Linked DNA regions of Homo sapiens: region 1 is linked to region 2. Evidence: fine-mapped expression QTL. A gene starts in region 2. The other region holds a variant in brackets. All regions are shown on one strand. Distances are from middle to middle.

Region 1 (5,338 bases), 39 kb before region 2:
AAGTTATTATAGCCTTACTTTACCTCTAAAATGCAGGCATATGCACTAATTCCCAACGATTTTACTTTCCTGACATCTGTAGAGACTGGACATTTGAGTGGACTTCATACTTTCATTTTGTTTTCATAAAGTAATTGCTTTTAAAAAGATACATGCTCACTACAAAATATCTAAATACACAGAAGTACAGAGGCTTAAATCACCTGAAATTTTACTATCTAGAAAAAATGTCTATTTGAAAAATCTTATTAATATTTGCATGGCCTCCAATATTTTACTATTTTGCAAATATCCTGTGGTAAACTGGATTTCAACAGCATATAAGTTTTGGACCACTAAAGAAATCTATCTGAACCACTGTTTTCTTCTGAATAATTTCTTCAACAATGGGATCATAAGGAAGTTGAATGAAATTAAGTTTATGCCTTTTATGTGTTAACATATTTACAAGTCATCAGAAAATTATTAACAAGCCATCAGGAAAGTATCAGTATACTTATTCTATCAGATTCAACATTTATTAAAGTTTGTAATCTTGATCTTTTCTGGCAGAAATGGCAACAGATAGCTTATTTAACTTACTTCTCTAGTAAGTGATGCTGATAGTTTTGCCTTTATATATTATTAGTTCCTTGTGTGATTAAACTTTAGTCATAACATTACACTTTTTTCTTTTTTAAAACTTTTTCTACTTATTACCATTCAGCTATCTTCAGTGGGACAAACTTTTGTTAATAATGTAAGAGGATTCAACGAAACGGCCATTTTCATACTATCTGGACTTTTGAAAAAGACTAAACATGTTTGTGAATGATAAATAGGTATAAGTGGGAGAAACAGTAATGGTTATAATTAACTAGAGCCATTCAACTGAGAAACTGAAAATGCAAGAAATTATTCTTTGACTAAAATCTAGCCATCTTTCATGTGTAAGGCAAGCAAATTTATTATCACAAATATCTACCATAAGAATGTGATACAAACATACAACAGAAAAACCTGACAGTTGGTATCAATGAACAAGTACAGAAATATGTGATTTCTATAACACACATGAGGAAAAAAACTTGCTGTTAATCAAATCTGATCAAATTCTGATCAACTGATGATCTGATTAAGAAGCCAACTATTCTAAGTTAATTTCCTTTTTCCTATTTTTCTATGACTTTAAGAATTCTGAAAATTAAGTGATAAATTCTGCAAGCAAACCCATGTGTTTTCTAAGTCTCTTGATCCAAAAGGAGAAAAATCTTTTTTTCTTTTTTTTTTTTAGATGGAGTCTCACTCTGTCACCTAGGCTGGAGTGCAGTGGCAAGGTCTCGGCTCACTGCCAGCTCTGCCTCCCAGGTTCACGCCATTCTCCTGCCTCAGCCTCCAAAGTAGCTGGGAATACAGGTGCCCGCCACCACACCCGGCTAATGTTTTGTATTTTTAGTAGAGACGGGGTGTCACCATGTTAGCCAGGATGGTCTCGATCTCCTGACCTCGTGATCCAGCCGCCTTGGCCTCCCAAAGCACTGGGATTACAGGCGTGAGCCACCGCACCCAGCCCAAAGGGAGAAAAATCTTTAACCCAAAGACTGATGCTAAGCTTTATTATATTCTACTTTGTTGTCAATAATAAGTAAAATGTTCACAGTAATACAAAGGGGATGGAGGGGAGGAGAGAACGGGGAAGAGAGCTGAATTAGTAACTGCCATATGCTATCAAAGAAGGCCCACCACCTTTCTTGAAATCAGACTTACCAGAAAAAGATAAAGACTACTTGAGTCATTTAAAAAAAAAAACTTCAAAAATTCATTAGGGCCTTTTCCATCTTCAAACAGGTGGGCTTCAATCTCACCCTAATCTAGCACTCTAAGCAACACAAGAAAGGGGAGTCTGAGTGCTTTATTTGAGAGAAAAAAGGCACATTACAGAAATTTTCAAAGTACAGGTTAGGCAGTATTCCTTTTGAAAATTTCAGCTACATGACAAATTCTGAAATTATTACCGGAATGTTTTACAGCTTAACTAAGTGGATCTAGATTATTACCTGGACACTGTTTTCTTGTATTTGGTGAGGTTGTCTTACATGAGGCAATGAAGGCTGAGTTCCTAATTTCCTATCCAAAAATACTTCTTTGCTGCAAGCATAACACCATACTCGAAGAGTGGTAAGGTTCACAGTTAGATAATGCTTTGTCTCCTATATAATTTCACAGTAGAGGGAAAAGAGGAACCAAAATTACATATACTTGAAAAGACTTCTTCAAAAGATAACAGAAGATAAACTGCTTGCCTTTGATGAGTAACAATATACTCAAAAGCTAATTTAGAACATGAAAAAAATTCTTTAGATAAACTTCTAAGGTATAATAAACAGTAACAACATCTAAGCCTACTCTAGAAATTACTCTGCCATTCTCCCCTCACTATTCATTATACAAAAAGATAAACGCAAGAGTGTAAGACCTTGCTTTGCAGTCTACAAATAAATATAACACAAGAAAATAATTAACAATAGCAAGTAACTATTCTAAGAAATCAGAATGGCAAAAGAACACAAATGACATGAGTCAAGGCATAAAACAGCTCTAGCAATACAGAATATATAATCTTGGAAAGATAAAAGTCTAGCCTTTCACAACCAGAGTTCTGCTACAGAATTAAGCCCTACAAAAAATGATCTGAGTGACTAATTTATCAATTCTCCCAATGGTGGTACACAGCAAATACCATCTTAGATGCACAGAAAGAGGCAAATGATATACAATGATGACTCAGAGCTTGGGTATTCAGGCTTAATTAATTCTATAGAGGAATCCTGGTTGAGAACAGTTGATGCTGTAGAGGTATCAATGTGCATCTTAAAACAAAGTCATTCGAGAAACTTTCCATTTAGAATGGGAGCTCTACATAACACTATAGAAGAGGCATGCCAGAGTTACATGGGAAGTACCAAACAACCAGAGCAAAGCAGAAAGGTGAGTCCAGTTAGGACTATGTGCAGGAAAAGGCAATATGACATGAGCTGAGACTTAAAGAAGT[T/C]AGCCAGGCCATGTCATAAACCTAAGCACCCACTCTCTCTTGGGCTTCAACCTCCTAATATGCCAGCTATCACCTTCAAATATCTGGATATACACTTTTTTTTTTTTTTTTGAGATGGAGTTTCGCTCTTGTTGCCCAGGCTGGAGTGCAATGGCACGATCTCGGCTCACTGCAACCTCCGCCTCCCAGGTTCAAACAATTCTCCTGCCTCAGCCTCCCGAGTAGCTGGGATTACAGGTGCCCACCACCACACCCAGCTAATTTTTTTGTACTTTTAATAGAGACAGGGTTTCGCCATGTTGGCCAGGCTGGTCTCGAACTCCTGACCTCAGGTGATCCACCTGCCTTGGCCTTCCAAAGTGCTGGGATTCAGGCGTGAGCCACCATGCCTGGCCGGATGTACACTTTTGAAATCAGTGCTTTCTTAATCACAACCTCATTCTAATGTTCATCCTCCTAGCAATTCCCTTCCCCATCCTTCACAGAGAATGTAAGTGAAGTTTTAACTTAGAGTGCAAATTTGAATTACAACTTGAATTAATAATGTTATACTGGCTTTCCCTTTCCTTCAGGCACTTTTTTTAACAAGTCTTCCATTAAATTTTTTATATACATACCTGAGAATGTATGGTGCTGTGATCTACTTGTGATTCACCACAGCCAACATATGAACATCTATTCTATAAATAATTATATAGGAAGAAAAATAAGGTACTTTATAATATACATGTAAATTTATAACAGCATTACAATTACATTTACAATTAAGTTTGGATTACCTGTTTTACATTCAATGAGTAAATGACTTTCCAGTCATTAAATTTAACCAAATGTTTCCAGGCACAAAATAAAACCAGGATATATTTCTAAGCTAAAAGCTATGTCATTTCTAATAAAAGGCAAGCATAAAATAGCTGAGTGATTTACTAAAAACTACAAAAGCACTACAGATTAAGATCTTTCCAAAGTTTAATTTTTGTTATTAATAATGACCTTTTAAAAGCAAGTTTAATTTACAAAAATCACTTTAAGTATCAAAAATTTTCTGGTTATGATTATTCAGATCCAAATTTATTATTATTATAGCAATCTTTTCAGGAAAAAACATATACACACCTCCAGACATGCCCAAAGATTTGGTCCTTGGACTTTACAATCCTGACAAGTACCCTATAAAAAGAAATTAAAAAGACAACATTGGTTATATTGACACAAACACATACAATTCACTAATGCACTAATGACATCATACATATTTTTAAAATACTGCTCATAGAGTATTACAGTAATTTATGAAAATTACACATTCAAGAGAAAAGTGAATAGTTTTTCAAGGAAGAAAAAACCTGTTTCTTACAAGGGATTTTTGTATCAAATCTTCTTTTGTTATTTCACCAACTGAATCCAAATGTGGACAATGATTTCGAAAAGCTGACATTTTGTTAGGAATTTTTTCCTGTTTCCCAAGACTTTCAAAATGAGGTAACACCTATAAGAAAAGTAACACACACAAAAAAATTAATAAATGCTTACAATGCCTGCAAAGATTCCAAAAAATAAAAAAATTAAAATGTTAACATATTAAAAATGATTAAAAGATAACATAAGAATGATATAAGTTTGCCCTGTAAAAAGAGTGTATTCTCAAACATAGATGAGTTTTCAGAATTGAAGTTAATCTGAACACTGGAAATTTCTCTACTACATAAACATTTTATTAAAATTGACATCTATAAACAAATGTAAGTTTGTTTCTCCATGACTTTTGCTGCTTTTCCCCTCTCATTTCACTTTTTATAGATAAATAAAAGGGGGGAATATTCAAGTTATTCAACTGTGAAGCACTTTTATCCTTTTAAAAAAAAAATTAATCCTTAGGCTGGACTAGGAGTTGAAAAAAAAAAACTTCAAGTAGAAAGCTTCATTTTTCTACTAATAGGACCCCCTACTGATGGCATAAATTAAATCATCTGGTATCCTGGCCTTATACCAGGATAAGCACTTTATATCAGGGTTTCTCGATCCCGGCACTATTGACACTTAGGGCCAGATAATTCTTCGCTGTGAGGGATTGTCCTGTGCACTGCAGGTTATTTGGCAACATTCCCACTTCTATCCACAAGAGACAGACAGACCATCCCTGCCACCACTCTGAACTCTGATGACCAGTGTCTCTAGACTGTTTTAAATTATACCCTCTGGGGGACAAAATCTCTCCAGGTTTGAGAACCCCATTTTCATGATCTTTACAACCCCTGAAATAGGCACCATTATTAGCTTCATTTGCACATAAGGCTAAGAGATGCA
Region 2 (5,315 bases):
GAGTGTCCTGATGTCCCTGATACCTTGAGAGCAAAAGCATTCCTAATTTTGCTTTAAAGATAATAATATTAATTCTTGCAAAATATGGTAATTAAGAAAATTAATCTTTTACCACAAACCCTCGTAGCAGAGCACATCTTCCCATGATCTTTTTTTTTTTAACTCCTCTATAAATGAATATTGTACCTAGAGTGGATGCATTCCTCTTCTTCCTTTTGGGAACGCCCTACTCTGTCTATAGAGTAAGTGGACATTCACCACTTCACTGTCTTAAACTTGCTTTTGCTTTGGACTGTGGACTTGCCCTGAATTCTTTCTTGTGCGAAATCCAAGCACCCTCTCTTGGGATCTGGATTGGTACCCCTTTCTGGTAACAACATTATGAAGCCTCCACAGAAATCCCTGAAGTACGGGGTTCTAAGAGCTTCTGAGTTGGTGAACACATCCATATCCCAAAAAGGTCATACACCCTGATTCCATGGGGACAGAAGTTCCTGCACTTAGGATCCTTCCAGATCTTGTTTTATGTACCTCTTCATCCGGCTGTTCATCTGTATCCTTTGTAATATCTTCTGTTATAAATCAATAGACTGGTTTGGGATGGGAGGAGAAGATTGTGGGAATTCCTGATTTATAGCTGGTTGGTCAGAAGTACAAGTGACAACCTGGGATTTGCAATTGGTATCTGAAGTGGGGGCAGTCTTGTAGGACTGAGCCCTTAAGGGTTTGGTGCATAGTATTGAATTAAATTTAACTGTACAACACCCAGTTGGTAGACACTAAATTAAAGAGTGGAGTTTATAATAAGAAATAATTGGAGACTTGTTTGGTGGGGAAAAACCTCCACACATTTGGAGTCAGAAGTGTTGAAACTACAGAAAAATAGCTTTGTGTTTCTTTTCCTTTAACAATGCATCTAGTAAGTGGCCAAGAAAGGATTCAAACCCAGGCAGTCTGACTTCACAGTTTTGTTTTGATATTATGCAGATAGGATCCCCTAAATTCATTAATGGTTGCTGTAGCATGTATTGCAGTACTTGTACAGAAGAAACAACTGGTAGTACTCCATGAACTCCATTCTCTGGTTTAGTGAGCATTACACGATGGCTTGGTTATCTGGGGGAGGTACTGGCCTTCAGAATTAATCCAGGCTCCAATTTTTTTTTCCTTGTCTCCAATATCAGAAGACATTGAGTCCCCTGTCCTTCTGGTTTAAACCACTACTTGTTTGGTTTTCTTTTACTTGTAGCGAATATGTTAACTAATATATCCAATAATGGCTAAGATTGAGTGCAGTACTCTGCCAAACCAGAAGAAGGGAGGCTTACAGCAAATTACATTTGGTTTATAAACATAAATTAAATGTGATATTTCTATTTTATATATTTTATTATTATTTTGTAGAAATGAGGGTCTTGCTATTGCCCAGGCTAATCTCGAACTTCTTACCTCAAGGGATCCTCCCTCATCGGCCCCACAAAGTGTTGGGATTACAGATGTGAGCCACCTCACTTGGCCTAAATGTGACATATCTTATTCTCATGCTAAAGAATAAACTCTGTACCCACCGTGTAATACTATTTTTCTCATAATGTTTATTGTGGAATTAAGGAGATAATATGGTCTCAGGAAAGTTGTGTTGAGTGGTAGTCATCATCATTACTGCTATTCTCATTACGTTGAATGTTTGGAAGCTGTGGGAAATGGGAAAGAGGAGGAAATTGGGAAAATAAATGAAAATAGCCTTACAAATTTCAGGTTCTTCAAGTCTCAAGAGCTCCATTTACCCTATAAGTGCAAAATATTTTCACATAAAACCCAGTCTGTGGATCGTTAGTTATTATTAATCTAATAATATCATAAATTGGTACTACTATTCTATTTTCCATTTGGTTAAATGGGAATTTTGAAAACAGAATTATTTTGGCTTTTCACCACAAATATGCTCAGCAACTGGAATTCTTAAATCTGCAGTTTTTTTGTTTTGTTTTGTTTTGTTTTGTTTTTTGTTTTGAGACAGAGTCTCACTCTAGTCACCCAGGTTGGGGTGCAGTAGCACTATCTGGGCTCACACAACCTCCGCCTCCCGGGTTCAAGCGATTTTCCTGCCTCAGCCTCCCGAGTAGCTGGGATTACAGGCAGGTGCCTGGCTAATTTTTGTACTTTTAGTAGAGATGGGGTTTCGCCATGTTGGCCAGGCTGGTCTTGAACTCCTGACCTCAAGTGATCTGCCCGCCTTGGCCCGCCAAAGTGCTGGGATTACAGGCTTCAGCCACCGTGCCCCGCCTAAATCTGCAGTTCTGATGGAATGTTTTGACTGAAGACTGAACGTAGAAACAGTACCTTGGGTTTTGTTGTTGTTATTTTTTCCTAACCCGGCCCCCTATTAGTTTACTATGTATTAGAACCTGAGAGAGGTGACTACTCTGCCAATAAATTGCCACATTCAATATTCTTCGGTTGCCTAATTCAGTGGGAAACACAGAAAAAAAGGTAAAGAGGACATGAAATCAATAATAAATGCATCATCTATACCGGATTGGAATGCCTCTTAACACTCATTCATCTGAGGGCTGAGGGCCTGTGGTAGAAGTTCTTAATCTTGTTTTCAGGGTTTTGAAATTGTGTAACTTTTTTTTCTTTAATGTAATGAGCATGTGTATACACATTTTTTTTTTTCCAGGGGAAACCCTCCATAATTTTTACCAGATTGACAACCGTTCTAGATCCCCCGACAGGTTACGAACTACAATACTAGTTTTTTTTTTTTTTTTTTACCGGTTTGTAAAAGGATGCAATTCTTCGAATATAGTTTTTGCATCCACTTGACGAGGAAGGAGCCTCTACCCTAAACAAAAATGGCGGGAGCTGCTTCACACGTAGTCCCTCACGCAGAAAGCCTGGAAGGCCCCCTCCACTTTCTCTCCACCTTCGCACTCCTGACCCCGGAAGGACTCCGCCTTCTCCATGTCAGACTGCTGCTCAGCGCCAGGCATCAGCTGGGAAGCTGGCGTGGGCAGGCCAGCTGTACCTGGCCTGGAGCTCCAGGTACAGGGCCAGGGGCGGGGTGGGGTGGAGAGGCGGGCGGGAGGAAGCGGAGAGTTGAGCGGCCACGCAGTTGGGGCAGAGGCCTCGGGGCAGGGGTGGCGCGGACTCCATCGCTGGCGTTAGCTCTCGGAGTGCCAGGTGGAGCGGCGGAAAGCCAGAGGGTCTACGGCCGTGCCACCCTGAACACCCCCGACCTCGTCTCATCTCAGAAGCTAAGCAGGGTCGGGCCTGGTTAGTACTTGCATAGGAAAGCAGGAGGGTCCCCACGCCAGAGGGAGGCCTGCAAAGGAAGCGCGGAATTGGGATGGGCTCGCCACTGCTCTGAGCCAGAGGAAGGGTCTGGACGGCCGAGCTGGAGGGACCCCCTTTTCTGGTGTTCTTGGCAAAGAAAAAGGAAGACAGCAGAGGAGAGCTCCGCGAGGGGCTGCTGTGGGGTCGGGGGAGAGCGCGCTGGAGGTAGGGCAGCTGGTGAGGTCTCAGGTTCGGCTTGGATGCGGGTGGTTTTGAGCAGGGAGTGGCTTTTGGATGTGAAAGATTACTCTGCTTTGCAGGTGCTTTAAGAGAATAATTTAGCACGGGAGTATTGTGGTGTCAGGTCCTTCTGTAAAGTTGTTAAATTATCTATTTTCCAGAGGGAAGACTCAGCTTGTTTTTGCACAGGACTTTGAAACCTTTATTATTGTTGTTTTATTGTTGTTGTTATTGCAGCTAAACATGTTTGCTCTGTTCAAAGTGTCAGAGTTAGGTTATATAGATTTGTGCTTCACGTCAATTTTCTTTTTGATACTTCAGACTTTCCTTCCTGTTGGATTATAAAGTCAAAGTTGCAGGATAGAATTTTAAGATGTCTAAGAAACTGTTTATGACACTTATTTTTAATTCCCCAGTAGTTGGAATGTAGAGGAGCAAGTAATATCACACAGGACAATATTTTTGGTTATGTTTTATAGATTCCGTCTATAAATTTGAATAATCATGAAACCCCCTTCATGTTTATTTTTATTATGCTTCTGAAAGCAAATGAAATGACTAGTTTTTTGTTTTTTTTTCTTTAGTTTTTCAATGAATAATGATTAGGTTTGGAATCAACTTCCTCAGTAATATTAAATGAAAAAGAATGAGGTAGTTAGAATGCAAAAATAGAGGTTTGTCATAATATTTTTTCTTTTTTCTTTTTTTTTTTTTTTTGAGGCGGAGTCTGGCTCTGTCGCCCAGGCTGGAGTGCAATGGCGTGATCTCTGCTCACTGCAACCTCCGCCCCTAGGGTTCTAGAAGTTCTCCTACCTCAGCCTTCCGAGTAGCTGGGATTACAGGCGCCCGACATCACTCCTGGCTAATTTTTTTGTATTTGTAGTAGAGATGGGGTTTCGCTATATTGGCCAGGCTGGTCTTGAACTCTTGACCTCAACTGATCCACCCACCTCGGCCTCCCAAAATGCTGGGATTACAGGCGTGAGCCACCACGCCTGGCCGAGGTTTGTCATAATCTTTTAAGAATATCTCTGCAGCCAATTAAAGTGTTTGCTTTATTTTCTTTCTATTCTGCTTAAAAATTTGGAATGCTCCATTATAGGGAAAATTACTTTGGGTGAATTACTCAATACGTTTTTTAAATGCAGTAGCATAGATTGCTTAATGATCCAGAATCTAATTAGTAAAAATGTTTCTCAAAATAAAATGTGTTAATATTTAGGGAGGGGGAAGAATAAATGAGCTTCCCCCCACTTCCTTTTTACTGTAGTAATATTAAAAAAGTAATACATGTAGGCAGGTTTTTAAAAATCAAGTATTACAAACAGACTTATAAGGAAAAGCAGTCATTCTTTGCCCAGCTTTTCTATATCCCTTGTCTTATTCTCCAGAGGACCATTTTTCACTTTCTTAACTGTTCATGGTTTCCTCTGTACTTTTTAATCATATGTCTCTATCACAGGTTGTTGACTGAAATAAATGTATGTCAAGTAGAACTAACTATACTGAATCTAAAAGTTGTACTTAGAACACTGGTAGGGGGGATTAAGTTTATACTGCTGTATCCCTAGTAAGGATTAAGGGAAGCATCAGTAGTAGTAACCCACCCTAAGAGGTATTGCTGTGTTTGATTTTAAAGGAAACCACTACTTAATCAGTGGTTTTGACACTTGTCTGAAAACAGGTGGGTATTAACAGAAGGGGATAGTCTATTGGAGTATAGAAAAAGAGAACATAGAAATGTATGCAGAAATGAAGGGCCTAAAAAAGTGTAGCAAATAATTTTTTTTTTTTTT

Evidence for each region. PIP is the estimated chance that this variant, and not a neighbour inherited with it, causes the effect.
Region 1: its variant is the best candidate, but not a certain one, in a credible set for the expression of MIGA1 in whole blood (INTERVAL, PIP 0.52).

What each region holds. Positions count from the first base shown.
Region 1 is chr1:77,737,229-77,742,566 of GRCh38, forward strand. It overlaps USP33 (ubiquitin specific peptidase 33), which reads right to left. Exons shown (of 24, transcript NM_201624.3): 2 at 4,389-4,520; 3 at 4,148-4,201; 4 at 3,649-3,711; 5 at 2,037-2,189. The coding sequence starts at 4,469. Among named protein-coding and RNA genes, the nearest start is that of USP33, 20 kb to the right of the region's middle. The variant T/C (reference allele first, on the strand shown) is at 3,032.
Region 2 is chr1:77,776,689-77,782,003 of GRCh38, forward strand. It overlaps MIGA1 (mitoguardin 1), which reads left to right and starts at 2,961. Exons shown (of 16, transcript NM_001416120.1): 1 at 2,961-3,048. It also overlaps the pseudogene RNA5SP21. RefSeq lists an enhancer at 2,848-2,937.